3 linked regions of the Homo sapiens genome follow. The protein of the gene in region 2 interacts with the protein of the main gene of each other region in a pairwise test. Each region holds a gene or a part of one and is shown on either strand. Other genes may lie near its edges.

Region 1 (3,753 bases), on a different chromosome or scaffold from region 2:
GAAGCTAAAAAATACTGCTGCCAATCTCTGCCTAGAACTACAGTTTATCTAATACTCTAGGCTTAGATAAGTGGGAAGATATAAACAGCCTCAGGACCATACTCTATGAGAGGATCGAAAATAGCCCAATTAACTCAAAGGGCAGGACCCTTGACCCACAATTATCATATCTGATTCTAGACTGAGGCCCAGTAGGTCAGCTGAAGCACCTGAAATATCACCACACAGAGGACAGTGGGCACAGAAGAAAACAAAATTAAAAAAAAAAAAAAGAAAAGAAAACAAAATCAAAAGCACTCACTCTGAAAATGGGTCTGTAATTTGGCTGGGTGTGGTGGCTCACGTCTTTAATCCCAACACTTTGGGAGGCTGTGGCAGGCGAATCACTTGAGGTCAGGAGTTTGAGACCAGCCTGGCCAACATGGTGAAACCCTGTCTCTACTAAAAATACAAAAATTAGCCAGGCGTGGTGGCGGGTGCCTATAATCCCAGCTACTCGGGAGGCTGAGGCAGGAGAATCGCTTGAACCTGGGAGGTAGAGGCAGAGGCTGCAGTGAGCTGAGATCATGCCACTGTATTCCACCCTAGGCGACAGAGCCAGACTCCATCTCAAAAAAAAAAGTCTGTACTTCAAAACACATGAAGAGATACACTGCAAGAAAGACAGCCAACAAAACCAATGACTAAATATTATTCCAGGTGAAGTTTAACTTTACAGAACAGTCTGACATACTTATTATATAAGTACATTTAGGGTACTTGGACATAAATTTTAAAAATTATTGGGAATGCAAATGATACAGTCACTTTGAAAGATAGTTTAATAGTTTCCTACAAAGCTTGATATATTCTTACCATTCGACCCAGCAATCACTCTCCTAGGTATTTTCCCAAGTGAGTTACAAATTTAATGTCTACACAAAAACCTGCACACGGATGTTTATAGCAGTTTTATTCAAAAATTGCCAAAAACTAGAAGCAACCAAGATGTCCTTCAGTAGGTGAACGAATAAACAAACTGTGGTGCTTCCATAAAAAGGAATATTATCATTCGGCGCTAAAAAGAAATGAGCTGGCCGGACGCGGTGGCTCACGCATGTAATCCCAGCACTTTGGGAGGCCAAGGCAGGCGGATCATGAGGTCAGGAGATCGAGACCATCCTGGTTAACATGGTGAAACCCCGTCTCTACTAAAAATACAAAAAATTAGCCAGGCATGGTGGCGGACGCCTGTAGTCCCAGCTACTCGGGAGGCTGAGGCAGGAGAATGGTGTGAATCCGGGAGGCAGAGCTCGCAGTGAGCCGAGATCGCGCCACTGCACTCCAGCCTGGGCCACAGAGTGAGACTCAGTCTCAAAAAATAAAAATAAAAAAAAGAAATGAGCTATCAAGTCGCAAAAAAGACTTAGAGGAAACTTAAATGCATACTGCTAAGCAAAAGAAGCCAATCTGAGTAGGCTCCATACTACATGATTCCAAATCTATGACATTTCCAACTCTGGAAAAGGTAAAACTATAGCCATGTAATGACATTTATTCTGTCTGTACTGTTGAGTATTTTACAAGTGAGCCCCTTGCAGGGTTGTAGCATGCAGTCATGCCATGTAAATGATACATGACATTACGCACTTGTCAAAACCCATAGAACTATACAATACAAAGAGTGAACTCTAAATCATGAACTTTAACAACAATGTATCAATATTAGTTTATCAATTATAATAAATGTAGCATACTAATGCAAGATGTTAATAATAGGAGAAACCATATGGGAAAGAGTGGGTATATGGAAACTCCATACTATTCAGCCACATTGGTCAAAATTGTGTTAATCTATTTTTATTCCATTATGTATATTGTTTTAAAAACTGTATTACTGACAATTGCACTTGAGTACATACACAAAAGAAATGGAAACAGAGACTTAAACAGACATACAGATACCAATGTTCATAGCAGCACTCCTTGTAATGGCCAAAACGGGGAAACAACCCAAATGTCCATCAATGAATGAATAAACAAAATGTGGTATATTCATACCATGGAATATTATTCAGCCTTAAAAAGGAAATTTTCACACATGCTACAATATGAATGAACTTTAAGGACATTATACTAAGTGAAATCAGCCAGATACAAAAGGGCAAATATTGTAATGATTCCATTCATATGAGGTACCTAGAGTAGTCGAATTCATAGAGACAGAAAGTAGAATGGTGGTTGCCAGGCGCTGAGGGAAGAATGGGGAGCTGGTGTTTAAGGGGTACAGAGTTTCAGTTGGGGATGATGAAAAAGCTCTGGAGACAGTGGTGATGGCTGTGCAACAATGTGAATGTATTTCATGCTACAGAACTGTACACTTACAATGGTTAAAATTGTTATTTTTATGTTATGTGTATTTTACTATAATAAAAAAAGTTAGAGTGCTGAAAAACTGGTCATCCAAATTGAAAAAAAAATTGTATCTTTTCATTATACCATACATAGAAATAAATTCCATCTGGAAAGCAAAACTTTTTTAAACTTTTGGAAGAAACTCTAAGAATATATCATTAACACCATGAGAGACAGAAAATTTTCTTAAACCAGATACACACCCAAAAAAAGACAAGCCATTTAAGGGAAATTTTTCATAAATATGACATTAAACTTAAATGGTATATACAACCAAATACATTGTTAACAAAGGGAAAGAAAAGCCTAGGGCTGGCAGGATGCATTTGCAACACACAGACCCACTGAAGAATCAGCATCTAAAGGAACCCAACTGTTCCTCAGTGAGTAAAAGGACACGTGCGCTGTGATGTAAGTCCACAACCGGGCCAGGTGCAGGGGCTCATGCCTGTAATCCCAACGCTTTGGGAGGATCACTTGCCAGCCTGAGCAACATGGCGAGACTGCATCTCTACAAAAAATTTTAAATGGTGGCACGCAAGTGTAGTCCCAGCTACTTGGGAGAATCACTTGAGCCCTGGAGTGCCACTGCACTCCAGTCTGGGCGACAGAGGAAGACCCTATCTCAAAAAAAAAAAAAAGCCTACAACTGAATACACTAAGCAGTTGAAAATAAATGGATTAAATCCACAAGCAGCAACATGGTTATAGCCCCATCAGTTATGAAGTAAAACGCATACCTCTGACCCAGCAACTGTAGTTTTTCATTCACTGCAGCAACGGTCCTTAATGAGAATACTAAATAAACTACGATACATACTACATAAGAGATTGTGTAGTAGTTAAGAAGACTCAGGTTGATTCCTGTGTTCCAACATGAAAAAATCTCAAAATCATTCTGTTAGGGGAAAAAACTGCAGAACAATGTGTATGGTATGATGTCATTAATGCAGAGGAGAAAAAACTCTGCTCTTTTTTTATTCTGTATTACCTATATATACATGAAAATACATAGAGAATAGCCTGGAAAGACCACAAAAACTGATAACTTCTGTTTCTGTGAGTAGGTCAAGGGGGCCTTTATTCTGTCTATACTGTTTTGAGTATCAGATGAGTTTGTGTTCCCTATATATACATGAAAATACATAGAGAATAGTCTGGAAAGACCACAAAAACTGATAACTTGTTTCCGTGAGTAGGTCAAGGGGGCCTTTATTCTGTCTGTACTGTTTGAGTATCTGACAAGTGAGTGTGTGTTCTGAGCCACCTGCAGAGTTGCAGCACACAGTCACACAGAGTGTGCACTACACAACTCCAGCAGCTGCCAGGCACAAGGACTCCAATGTGAATGGTGCTCCC
Region 2 (3,753 bases):
AAAACAAAAGAGATTGCAGCTGAATGTACAAAGAATGTTTCATCTATCACAGAAGACTGTCTGGAAGCTCATGTTCACCCCTCATTCTCAGAGAGCTAGAGGGGTTCACAAATTGATAAGGGTTGGACTCAGTGACCACAAGGGCTCGCAGAACCTATGAGTTTACAGCAGCCTATGATGGAGGAAGCATAGGTTTACCTCTGGTTTACAGAAGTTTGTGAAAGGGGATGAACCACCCAGGCAGGCCAGCACCAGCCACCAGGACCAGGGGCTCCCCTGCTGTGGAACACAGGGGTGCACTGACCTGGAGCTGGAGAAATGAAGAGGTGTTGGTGTCAATTGTTAGGGAAGCAGATTCTTCTATGCTAAATGCCAGGCTTGAAACGTGGCCATATGCCACCCATCCATCTGTTCCAGGTGGAATCTGTGTGTCCATGGCCACACAGAGGCTGACTTTGGTAATCCACTCTGGAGATACTCAGGAGTGGGGCAGTGTGTCCAGTGGTTCTGGCCATCCTAATGGTTCAGGTTTCCTTTGCAATTTATGCTGATACTTTAGGAGCACTTGACACCTGGGACCAACTCACAATGATGAGGTCATCAGAGGGCTGGTCAGTAACCTGAGAGATGACCTGAGAGCTGGTGCATATTCTTCCAGTACAAATCCAATCATGGCGACCCATTGCTGAAGAAAAGGCAAAACTCCTTCACAGGCTCTGGCCCCTTCCTGCCTCTCCAGCTCCTCCCACACCAGCTCCCCTCCCTCTCAAGATCCCACCACATTGGTCATGTTTCAGTTCCTCCTACTTTTCATGCTCCTTCCTGCCACAGGGCCTTGGCACATGCTTCTCCTATGTAGGAGACTCCTCTGTCCCTTTTTCATCCAGTTACCTCCTCAGCATTCTTCAGAGCTCTGCTCAAAAGCCATCCTGCCCCCACCATTATACACTACAGCACACTATCAACTTGTCTTGGTTACCATCTTACATTCCTTCCAGTGATTGCCTGAAGAATGCTGCTCTTCCCATCTAGACTGTAAGCTCTATGAGGGCAGGAACTACATTTGTTTTTTCTGAGGGCCTCCCTATACAGTGCCTGGAACCTAAGGAGTTTAGTTAACATTTATTGAATGCATAAGTAAAAGTGCCCCTCTGGCCCAGAGCTGCAGCCTGAAGATAACCTGGACAACTTGGCCTCATCTGGGTGAGGGTGTTGTATTGGTAAATGGGCATCATCCTAAAGACTTCTCTTGCCCACTGGACTGACATGGGGTTGGCAACCGCAGCAATATAGACAGTGGCAATTATGAGCTTATATTTCTGTATAGTACAATTTAAATACATTGGATTATTTCCAATAGGCAGCTGTTAGGGGGTTAACAGCAGTTAACACTTTCAGCTCTAGTCAGAATTGTTTGCTCATAAACATAAATCAAGGACCTTTTTTTTTTTTTTTTTGAGACAGTCTCACTCTGTCGCCCAGGAGTGCAGTGGCGTGATGATCTCGGTTCACTGCAACCTCCAACTCCCAGGTTCAAGCAATTCTCCTGCCTCAGCCTCCTGAGTAGCTGGAATTACAGGCACCTGCCACCACACTCGGTTAATTTTTGCATTTTTAGTAGAGACGGGGTTTCACCATGTTGGCTAGGCTGATCTCGAACTCCTGACCTCAAGTGACCCACCCGCCTCAGCCTCCCAAAGTGCTGGAATTACAGGCATGAGCCATTGCACCTGGCTGAATTGACGGCCTTCTATGGGCCCAGTACTGTACTAAGAATAGCGGTACTCAGCCCCTGACCTCAGAGACATTATGATCCTAACAGACGGACAGAGACACACTGGATTCTACTGCATGCACACTCCATGATGCAGTGTTAACCATATGCCAAGCACAGTGCTGGGTGCCTGGGAAACCAGAATGAGGGACTTGGAGAGGAGACAGCCACAAACACAAGAAGTAGCAATGAAGTGAGAAAAGCAGACCAGAGACTGTGGGAGGGAATGCAGAGGGGGAGCCAGCACTCCTGGCTATGCTGCTGTTAAATGTGGGTCAGAGGACAGGAGCGCAAGAGTGAGTTAAACCTTCCAGCTTTGAAAGGGATGCCTGGTGCTTGGGCCTGGGTGTCCTAGCCCCATTCTGACTGCAGCTCTGCTTCCTTGTACAGGTCTGTTGTGGGCATCCCGACCTGCGAGTCCGTGGTGCAGCTGCAGCCGGGGCGGAGCTACATTATCTATGTGCGAGCCCTCAATATGGGGGGCCCCAGCGTGAGGAGCGAGCCAGCTACAGTCCACACCATAGGTCTGTGCCCCAGCCCACAAAGTCTCTGGGACCCAAAGTGGCCACTCTGTGGCAGACCCAGTGCTGCTATGACTTCACTGGGAAATTGATGAATATGCACAGATGTGGACACGTGGCAAGTCAGGCCAGAAGGAGTTCAGGGGTGTCCCATACTGCCCTAATTGCAAGTCAAATGGATCATTAAGAAGTCCTTCAATTCCTATTTCCCTTGGCAAATAGGTTAGAAATTCTTATCCATACACAGGCATTACAGCTAGAGGTAAAGAGCACAGCCTCTGGAATCAGAGGGGCTTGGGGTTCAAGTTTAAGTTCTATCATTTGCCAGCTGATTTCTTAACCACCTTGTGCCTCTGTTTCCTCATCTACAAAATGGAAATAGTGACACCTGTTTCTAAGGGTCGTCGTGAGGATTGAAGGGGATACTAGGCACACAAGACTGCCCGATGAGTGTCAATTGCCATCCTTGTTAACTGGACGCCTATTACTAGGCCAGGTCCAGGCTTAGGTGTATCCCACACGAAGCTAAACCGGTGACCACCGCCCACATGGAGAAAGCAAGTGATTGGCTGCGGGTCTTCTGTGTGTTCCTCCTCCCACAGGAAGCTACTTTCGCCTAAACAAGGACACTTGCCATCCCTGGCTGACCATTTCTGAAGACGGACTTACGGCTGTACGAAGTGAAAGGAGAACCCCCGCCAGGGAGCTGTCACCCAGCGACACTCACTTCACCAGGTACTTTGTCAACCGCTCACAAGGGCGTTCTGTGAACTTCCCGAAGGTGCACTGTTATTCAGGTCAAATCCGAATATGGCACGGAGGCAGCCTCGAGGGAAAAGGAATCCTACAAATGAGTGAGGAGGGAGGAGCCTAATGGGGAGGGGACCCAGAGGAGTGTGGGCAAGAGGGGTCAGGCAGGTGCAGGCAGAAGAGCCCCCTGGGACGGTGAGGTCAGGAGAGGGCGCGGTCCCCTGGGAGGGCATGGTCCCTGGGTCCTAGGCTGCCAGAGCTGGAGCAGCCAGAGGTCATGAGGGTGGGACAGGAATTACTAGTGGAGGGTGTCCAAGTTCTTGGCGTTCTGAACAAAGAATTGGACAAAATGCACAAACAAAGCAAGGAAAGAGGCCAGGCACGGTGGCTCATGCCTGTAATCACAGCACTTTGGGAAGCCGAGGCAGGCAGATCACCTGAGGTCAGGAGTTTGAGACCAGCTTGGTCAACATGCTGAAACCCCATCTCTACTAAAAATATAAAAATTAGCCGGGCCTGTTGCGGGTGCCTGTAATCCCAGCTACTCGGGAGGCTGAGGCAGAAGAATTGCTTGAACCCGCGGGGCGGAGATGGCGCCACTACACTCTAGCCTGGGCAACAGAGTGAGACTCCTTCTCAAAAAAAAAAAAAAAAAAAAGCAAGTAAAGAATGAAGCAACAAGAGCAGAGATTTATTGAAAACGAAAGC
Region 3 (3,753 bases), on a different chromosome or scaffold from region 2:
GGAGTCAAGATAACTGAAGGCTTTCTTACATTCCTTATTTCTATATGGATTCTCTCCATATTCCTGATACTCAGATGACTTGTGTCCAGTGTCAGCTCTGATATGCGTATTAAGAGATGAATGACCCGTGCCAACTTCTCCACACACACTGCTTTCACATGGTGTTATTCCAGGAAGAGTTTTCCTGTTCAGCATGTCATCTGCAATCTGGTTGAAGCTTTCTCCACAGTGATGACTTTCTTTACTTTCACAGAGTTTCTCTCTCATAAGACTTCAGTGAAAAATGAGAAGCACATTATTAACGGTTTGATTAAAAGTGACTTATAGGGCCGGGCACAGTGGCTCACTCCTGTAATCCCAGCACTTTGGGAGGCTGAGGTGGGCAGATCACCTGAGGTCAGGAGTTTGAGACCATCCTGGCCAACATGGTGAAACCCCGTCTCTACTAAAAATGCAAAAATTAGCTGGGCGTGGTGGCAGGTGCCTGTAATCCCAGCTACTCGGGAGCCTGAGTTGGGAGAATCGCCTGAACCCCAGAGGCAGAGGTTGCAGTGAGCTGAGATTGCGCCATTGTGCTCTAGCCTGGGTGACAAGGGCGAAACTCTGTCTCAAAAAAAAATAAAAAAATAAAAAAGTGATCTATATTGGCTGGGTATGGTGGGTCACGCCTGTAATCCCAGCACCATGGGAGGTTGAGGCGGGCAGATGGCTTGAGGCCAGGAGTTTGAGATCAGCCTGGCCAACATGGCGAAACCCTGTCTCTACTAAAAATACAAAAATTGGCTAGGTGTGACGGCGTGCGCTTGTAATCCCAACTACTTGGGATGCTAAGGCACGAGAATACCTCGAACCCAAGCAGTGGCAGTTGCAGTGAGCTAAAACCACACCACTCCACTCCCGCCTGGGTGACACAGCGAGACTCTTGTCTCAAAAAAGAAGAAAAAAACATGATTTATATCATTAACAACTATTGCACTTGCATTGTTAACACTGCCCGGCAAAGTGTCAGCTTTCTGCTCTGTCTGAATCATTTGAATATTAATGGACTATATGCTCTACAAGATGGTCTGGGTATATATATTTTTTTAAAATTAGTATTTCTATGGGGCTTTGTAATCCTATTTTCAAGTAAACTATTTTACAAATACTAAACATGTGCGTCTTTTTTTTTGAGTTGGGGTCTCAACTCACCCTGTTGTCCAAATTGGAGTGTAGTGGTACCAACATGGCTCACTGCAGCCTCAAACTCCTGGCCTCCAGCAATCCTTTGGTCTGAAAGCCCCAAAGGACTGGCATTTGGGGGTATGCGCAACAGTGCCCAGCCCAGCGTATGTTACATTTAAACATATGTTTTTAGGAAAACTTTCTATGAATACATAAATTTGATACTGGGCTTATTTCTTTTGCTTCTTTTTAACATTTTCTCACTTTTTTTTTTTTTTTGAGACGGAGTCTCGCTCTGTCACCCAGGCTGGAGTGCAGTGGTGCGATCTCGGCTCACTGCAAGCTCTGCCTCCCAGATTCAAGCAATTCTCCTGCCTCAGCCTCCCAAGTAGCTGGGACTACAGGCATGTGCCACCACGCCCAGCTAATTTTTTTGTATTTTTAGTAGAGACAGGGTTTCACCATATTGGCCGGGCTGGTCTCGAACTCCTGACCTTGGGATTCACCCACCTCGACCTCCCAAAGTGCTGGGATTACAGGCGTGAGCCACTGTACCCGGCCTATTTTCTCACATTTTAAGATTTTCTAGAGGCATTGCCTTGTCTTGCGAGAGAAAATTACCTTAGATTTCTCCTGGGATTTTTGTACTCATCTTCAATGTTCTGAACTTTCCATGTTTTTCCTAAAACACAGACCCGGAGAAAACACAGATCCAGAATTAGTATGAATTTATTTAAAAATCATTAGATTCTGTATTCATGGTACATGGTAGCCATGCCTGATTTATTCATCAAAGTATTTTTTGTCCATGTTCCAAATCAATGAACAGCATTGATGAGCTAGAAGCATTTGTTCTCTAATTCACTGGGAAGTAATATTGTCATTCTTACCTACAGAGGTCAGGTTCTTGAAGGTTTCCTGCATCACATCCCTGTAGAGATTCTTCTGGGAAGGATCCAGCAAAGCCCACTCCTCCTGGGTGAAGCTGACAGCCACATCCTCAAAGGCCACTGAATCCTGAAACATCTCACATATATAAAAGAGGACAGGTAAGACTAACAGCCCTGGAGGCCTATACTTTATTCCTAAGAAGTTCTCATGATACTGTGGACTCCAAACATTTATCCCATGACTTGGTCATCACACCTCTTACTTTCTGTCTATACTCACGTCCTCCCACAAACCAACCCTTTTTTTGTTAAGAGAGAGGGTCTTTGGCCAGTCGCGGTGGCTCACGCCTGTAATCCCAGCACTTTGGGAGGCTGAGGCAGGCAGATCACTTGAGGTCAGGAGTTTGAGACCAGCCTGGCCAACATGGAGAAACCCGTCCCTACTAAAAATATAAAAATCAGCCAGGCGTGGTGGTGGGTGCCTGTAGTCCCAGCTACTCGGGAGGCTGAGGTAGGAGAATTACTTGAACCCAGGAGGTAGAGGTTACAGTGGGCCGAGATCGCGTCACTGCACTCCGGCCTGGGCGACAAAGCAATACTCCATCTCAAAAAAATAATAATAAAATAAATAGGCCAGGCGCAGTGGCTCATGCCTATAATCCCAGCACTTTGGGAGGCCAAGGTGGGCGGATCACCTGAGGTCGGGAGTTCGAAACCAGCCTGACCAACATGGAGAAACCCTGTCTCTATTAAAAAAAAAAATACACAATTAGCTGGGCATGTTGGCACATGCCTGTAATCCCAGCTACTTGGGAGGCTGAGGCAGGAGAATCACTTGAACCCGGGAGGCAGAGATTGCGGTGAGCTGAGATTGCACCATTGCACTCCAGCCTGGGCAACAAGAGTGAAACTCCGTCTCGAAAAAATAAAATAAAATAAAATAAATAAAATCTATACTAATCAAGAGAAAATGGTATTAACAGATGGAAAGATAGACTAATGGAAAACAGCAGATTCTGAAAATAGTGAAACCACGACAAAGCAGGTATCACCAGCCAATTATGCAAGTGGTCCTCACTTACCAGAAGGAACAGGGACAGATGGTTACCTACAGGAGAACAAACAATCTTTGAAGCCCATCATCTCCATATGAATTAATTCTAGAGTTGCCTGTTACCGTGACTTCTTATGTTACCTTACCATGCATTTTCATTATGGGTTTCACTTTCTTATAACAGAAGAAACCCGTACTCAAGCCGTGTGTAGTGGCTCATGCCTGTAATCCCAGCACTTTGGGAGGCCAAGGCAGGCCAATCACTTCAGGTGAGGAGTTCAAGACCAGTCTGGCCAACATGGTGAAACTCCCTCTCTACTAAAAAACACAAAAATTAGCCGGGTGTGTGCGTGCCTGTAATCCCAGCTACTCGGGAGGCTGAGGCAGGAGAATCGCTTGAACTCGGGAAGCGGCGGTTGCAGTGAGCTGAGAGAGCGCCACTTCACTCCAGCCTGGGCGACAGAAAGAGACTGTCTCAGAAAAAAAAAAAAAAAAGAAGAAGAAGAAAGCTGCACTTGACCTCAACAGTTTCCAGTTATCCACCTCCTCCCAGTTCCTGCATGTGCTCAACCCACATATGTGACTTACACAGCTGCCTCCTGGTGACGACCTCACTGTGGAAAAGCTAGACAGACCAACTTGACT

What was found.
Region 1: the proteins of FSD2 (region 2) and DTNB interact in binary tests that used the Homo sapiens proteins (3 or more experiments, as listed by UniProt).
Region 3: the proteins of FSD2 (region 2) and ZNF20 interact in binary tests that used the Homo sapiens proteins (3 or more experiments, as listed by UniProt).

What each region holds. Positions count from the first base shown.
Region 1 is NC_000002.12:25,666,884-25,670,636, forward strand, and holds part of DTNB (dystrobrevin beta), read right to left. Parts: intron 1-3,753.
Region 2 is NC_000015.10:82,764,443-82,768,195, reverse strand, and holds part of FSD2 (fibronectin type III and SPRY domain-containing protein 2), read left to right. Parts: intron 1-2,164; coding exon 2,165-2,298; intron 2,299-2,897; coding exon 2,898-3,030; intron 3,031-3,753.
Region 3 is NC_000019.10:12,133,715-12,137,467, forward strand, and holds part of ZNF20 (zinc finger protein 20), read right to left. Parts: intron 2,191-3,753; coding exon 2,055-2,190; intron 1,847-2,054; coding exon 1,786-1,846; intron 272-1,785; coding exon 1-271. UniProt on the Homo sapiens protein: May be involved in transcriptional regulation.